Regions from separate parts of the Homo sapiens genome. Here region 2 is linked to region 1. The links come from fine-mapping of genetic effects on gene expression. Tissue or cell type: prefrontal cortex. Region 1 holds a variant in brackets; the other region holds the start of a gene. All regions are shown on one strand. Distances are from middle to middle.

Region 1 (2,654 bases):
CACAGGCCTGGCTGGACCTTTGAGAGCATATCCCCCTCGTCCCCCTCTGCCTGCCAGGCAGGTTGTGGCGTTAGTCACATCTCTGGCCTCCGGCTGGACCTGAACTATTGGCCAGGCCAAGCCTCGTGCCCCACCCCTACACTAGGCCCCTAGTCCACATGGAGTCCACGTTCAAGAATAAAGAGTGGGGCCAGGCACGGTGGCTCATGCCTGTAATCCCAGCACTTTGGGAGGCCAAGACAGGCAGATCACTTGAGGTCAGGAGTTCGAGACCAGCCCGGCCAATATGGCAAAACCCTGTCTCTACAGAAAATACAAAGATTAGCTGGGTGTGATAGCAGGCGCCTGTAATCCCAGCTACTCGGGAGACTGAGGCAGGAGAATCCCTTGAACCTGGGAGGCGGAGGTTGCGGTCAGCTGAGATTGCGCCACTGCACTCCAGTCTGGGCAACGGAGCAAGACTCCAACTCAAAAAAAAAAATGAGCTGTATGTATGTAGGGGCAGATGGTGACAAGTGCCAAGCAGACATGAAGACATGAGGGGCGTGTGACTTCAGAGTCGGGGGCAGCCTGAGCAGGTGGCAGAAGAGCCATGCAGGTACCTAGGGGAACAGCATTTCAGGAGGGGGGAACAGCTAGTGCAAAGGCCCTGAGGCAGGACAGAGCTTGGCATGTTGGAAGAACAGCAGAAAAGCCCACAGGCGGAGGGAAACAGGGCGCTGTGAGGGCAGCCAGTGAGGACTTGGGCTTTCCCTGAGTGGAACAGGAGCCATAGAGGGCTGCAAGCAGACGAGGAACAGGCCAACAGCGTCGCAGCCACCTTCTCACCTCTGTGGGGTGAGGAGGAAGCCAGGATACCAGACGGAAGAGGGTAGTGGTGGTAGTGGTGGTGGTGGCGGGGAGCGGGGGGCAAGGCTGTGCAGATGCAGAGAAGTGGCCAGATGCAGGGCCACCTGGATGTGTTGTGGGGGACTCGGTGTGGGGCAAGGGGAAGGTGTGTTCACCTGTGCCCCTGAAGTTCAGGTGCAGGTGTTCGGGAGCCAGCGCGGCTGCTGCAGGACTCATCCCTGCATCCTGCACCTTGAAGGCCAGGTGTGGGGACATCCTGCGGGCTAGGATGGAGGGGGGGTGCAGCAGTGCCTGGGGAGATGGCGGTCCTAACAGAGGTGACCAGTGTCTTCCTCGATGGCCTTCAGTGGCTTTGGGCACAGGGCCTTGTCAATGAACAGTGCATTGGAAAGTCACTTATGGTGGTCCCAATGATGTCACAGTCGATCCAGATTGGGAGTCCCTCCCACGTTGGCACCCACTCCTGCAGCCTCTCTGCAACTCATGTATTAACCTGATGTTGGGGAGCCCCCCCCCC[G/CG]GGTTCCCCAGGGTCACAGCAGCAAGTGACCCTCAGAGAACCCCCTAATCTCAGCAGCCCCCATCACACCTTTGTCCCAGTAGCCCGCTGTGCAGACCTGCAGAAGAAGATGCCTGGGAAGTGCCCAGGGTACCCGCGTCCAAGCTGGAACCCCATTGCCAAGCTCCTGGTGTAGGGCAGAGAGCTGCGTCTCCACTAGGTGCGCCTCCCAACGCCCTGGCGTGGGCCGTGTCCTTTTGAAGAATGAGAATGTTTCATTGAGCCTACGCCTCCTGAATGCGGGAGGGCCACGGGATGGTCCCAAGACTGTGCCAAGGCGTGCCAGGCCTCGGGTCCTTGAGAAGGAGCGAGGGCTCCAAGAACGGTGAGGTCGGAGCGGGCCGGGGCGATGGAGCGGGAGCGGCGTGGCGTGCTGGAGGGCCGGGAGAAGCGGGGGTCGCCAGTCGAGGGGACTGCCTGCTAGTGTCCCCCGTGCCCCCCGTCACGGGCACGGCGCGGTGGGGTGGGGGAGCGGGGGGCGCGCGGGGCAGGCATGGGGGCGCGACACGGCGGTGCGCGGGGTCTCTCGGGGTCCAGGTCCAACGGGCCCCCAGCTCCGGCCCCCGCGCCTGGGTTTCTCTGCTGGGAAACGGGCAGGGGCGCGGGCCCGCCTCCAGGGCGCCCCGCGTCCCCGCTGGCCGCCCCCCAGCCGCGCCCCCAGCGGGGCGGAGCTTGCGCCGGTCCCGCCCCTCCGCCCTCCGCTCTCCCGCCCGCGCGCCCCCGGCCCAGCTGCGGCGCGTGACGCGGGGCGCGCGGCTCCGTCGGCTACCGCGGGCGGGCGCAGGCGACGGGCACGGCGGGCGAGCGGGCGGTATGGCGGCGGCGGGGCCCGCGGCGGGGCCGACGGGGCCCGAGCCCATGCCGAGCTACGCGCAGCTAGTGCAGCGCGGCTGGGGCAGCGCGCTGGCGGCGGCGCGGGGCTGCACGGACTGCGGCTGGGGGCTGGCGCGTCGCGGCCTGGCTGAGCACGCGCACCTGGCGCCGCCCGAGCTGCTGCTGCTGGCGCTCGGCGCGCTGGGCTGGACCGCCCTGCGCTCCGCGGCCACTGCGCGCCTCTTTCGGGTCAGTGTGGCCGGGGGCCGGGACGAGGGGACCCCGGACTGGGGGAAGCCGGGACCGGGGACCTGGGGCCGCCGGCGCGTTCCTTTCTTCCAGCGCTGGCTGCTGCGGATGAAGGGGTCGCCGGAACGTGGGTGGGGGCCTCGGGCTGGAGAGGCCCAGGACGTTGGAGCCCCAGGATAAGGTCTCT
Region 2 (2,678 bases), 43 kb before region 1:
ACATCGCTGTCCGTGCAACTCTCTCCATCTGCTTCCTATCTCTCCGCCTGTCTCCCCCGTGTCTCTGTTTCTGGGTCTCTTTCTCATCCCAGATGTCCCTCTCCGTCTGTCTCTCTGTCCCCACCCTCTGCTCCCAACCCGACCCCACGCAACCCCCCCCCCCACTCCCCCTCCACCGCCCCTAACCCCCTCCCTCAATCCTCCGTCCCTTCCCCAGTCCCGGCCCCCGCCCCTCCCCCTTATCCCCTCCCCCATACCCTCTCCCAGTGCAAAAAGCCGGCAGGGGGCGCAGCGGGGCGGCCTTGGCGGCCCGGGGAGGCGGGGCGGGCGGCGGCCGCGTCGGGACCGGCCGCGATGGGACCGGAGGCGGCGCGGGCGGCGGCGGCGCAGACAAAGGCACGGGCGGCGTGGAGGGCGGCGCGGAGGGCGCGGGCCCGGGAGCCAGGGAGCGAGCGGGGCGCCCGGCAGCGCGGAGTCAGCGCCGCGGGGGCCGCACCCGACTCGCGCCTGGACACTCGCGGGGCGCCGACCTGGCAGGGTGAGCCCGGCCTGCCGAGCCTGCGCTGGGAGCGCGGGGGCCTCGAAGTCCCAGGGCCAAGGGGAGGGCGTGGGGGTTCCCCAGAAGTTTCGGACCCGGGACTGGGAGCGGCGCGAGGGGTCCCCAAGTTCCAGGGCTGGAGGGAGCGCGGGGGTCCCGAAGTTCTGGATTCAGGGTCTGAGAGGGGACTGCGTGGGAGGTTCCCAAAGTTCTGGACCCGGCGTTGGAGGAGGCTGCGAAGAGGTCCCCAAAGCTGCGGACCTGGGGTGGGGTACTGGGGTGGGAGGGGTCCGGACGTCCCGGACCCAGGGACTGGAGGGGTGGCAGGGGGTCCTCGAAGTTTAGGAGTCTAGGACAACGCGGAGGACCGGGGTCCCGGACCCAGTTAGAGGAGGAGTCACGAAGGGAGTCCCCGGAGTTACCGACCTGGGGTTGGAGGAGGCAGAAGAGGTGTCCCCCGAAGTTCTGGACCCAGAGACAGGGGGCGTCGCGGGAATCTCGGAAGTTCCAGGGTCAGAGCCCGCGTCCCGGAGTTGGGGCGTGCACTGGGTGTCCTGCCTCGGGTGGGGATGGGATCCTGAATTAATATTAACCCCCCCGTCCCCCGCACTCGGGTGCATGGGATGGGGCCTCATCCACCGGCCAGATTGGGGATCCCGGGCACCGGGCGGTGTCGGACCCCCCTCCGGGAGCCCCGTGGCCGGCGGCATCCGAGGCGCATGACTAGTTGGTGAGTAACTTTCCCCAAACGCTGCAAGTCGCAGCAGGAGCTGCCGGACCGGAAGGGCCTGGGTTCCGGGGACCCCTGTGTTCCCCAACTCCCACCCGGCGCAGGACCCGCCCCCAGTCCAGGCCAGAGCTGCCGCCCCACCCCCACTCAGGGGCTCCGGTTTCAGACCCTGTGACCAGGACAGCAGCTGCCCAGGACAGGATAGGGGGGGCATCCCCCCTTTGACCACAGAGGCCGCTGGGCCAGGGCCTCCCCTCCCCCACCTGTCTTCCCCCTCCTCCAAACTCCTCCTTGGTCCCCTGCAGATTCGGGGTTGCTGAATGGCCCAATGGGGAGGTTGGGGAGCCCTGGTCTCCCAGTGTGGATTCTGCTCTGCCCTCATGGTGGGCATTGGGATTGGCTGTTTGTCTACATCTTGTCTTTTTAACTTGGCTGGGGGCTCCCTGGGGATTTGGACTCTGGACTTCAAGGTGTGCTTCTGCCCTAGGGTGGGAGCTGCTGGGGGTGGGGTCCCTCTGCAGGGTGTAGTGGGGAACTGGTCTCCTGGTACTACACACCTCTCAACGCCCCATTTTTTGGTGGAGAGCCCCGCTCTGGCCAGTCATGGGTGAATGTGGTGGAAAGAACTCAGCAGAGATTTGGCCTCCACAGCTCAGCCTGGGATGGAGGGGACTTCACGGGGGTGCAATAACCAGGACAATGAGAAATTTACATCTGGATGTCAGCGGCCACCAGGCTCCTCTCAGAGGGCCATCTCCTGTACAGGGTGTTGTGGGGGCTTCCCCTAGACAAAGAAAGATGGGGTCTGCTTGCTCTGAGTTATCTATAATAATTATCTTACCTTTTTGTTTCTTTTTATAATTTCTTTCTTTTTTGAGACAGGGTCTCACTCTCTTGTCCAGGCTGGAGTGCAGTGGCCTGACCATAGCTCACTGCACTGCAGCCTTGACCTCCTGGGCTCAAGTGATCCTCCCACCTCAGCCTCCCCAGTAGCTGGGACGGCAGGCACATGCCACCACACCCAGCTAATTGTTTAAATTTTTGGTAGAGATGGGGTCTCGCCATGTTGCTCAGGATGGTCTCGAACTCCTGGGCTCAAAGGATCCTCCTGACTCAGCCTCCCAAAGCACCAGGTGTACTTTGGGCCTCTCCTGCCTTTTTGATTGAAAGTTCCATGACGGGCACACCTGGTGATGGGTCCTGAGATGGAACCTGCTTGGCCTCCCTCAGCCTGGCCTGAGGGACACTCATAGTCCCTCCTCTCTCCCTAGGGGCCAAACCAGTGCTCCTGCCACCTCTCTGGCTGCCCCCTAGAGCCTGCCCATCCCAGCCTGACCAATGTCCACAGCCAGGTGAGCTCCCACCTCCCCCAGCCTGGCCCTGAGCTTTCTAAGTGGGGGTGCCTGGCCC

Direction of the effects. Alleles are on the strand shown, and positions count from the first base shown. SD is a standard deviation of normalised expression in the study named.
For the expression in prefrontal cortex of the gene that starts at base 1,335 in region 2, CG is the high allele of the variant in region 1 and G is the other (moderate effect, 0.48 SD a copy in ROSMAP).

Evidence for each region. PIP is the estimated chance that this variant, and not a neighbour inherited with it, causes the effect.
Region 2: HOMER3-AS1 starts here. The variant in region 1 is fine-mapped to the expression of HOMER3-AS1 in prefrontal cortex (ROSMAP, PIP 0.95).

What each region holds. Positions count from the first base shown.
Region 1 is chr19:18,895,637-18,898,290 of GRCh38, reverse strand. It overlaps CERS1 (ceramide synthase 1), which reads left to right and starts at 2,133. Exons shown (of 8, transcript NM_021267.5): 1 at 2,133-2,467. The coding sequence starts at 2,219. It overlaps GDF1 (growth differentiation factor 1), which reads left to right and starts at 2,133. Exons shown (of 8, transcript NM_001492.6): 1 at 2,133-2,467. The variant G/CG (reference allele first, on the strand shown) is at 1,367.
Region 2 is chr19:18,938,911-18,941,588 of GRCh38, reverse strand. HOMER3-AS1 (HOMER3 antisense RNA 1) reads right to left here and starts at 1,335. Exons shown (of 3, transcript NR_134913.1): 1 at 965-1,335. HOMER3 (homer scaffold protein 3) reads left to right here and starts at 372. Exons shown (of 10, transcript NM_004838.4): 1 at 372-538; 2 at 2,540-2,620. The coding sequence starts at 2,607. RefSeq lists a silencer at 209-408.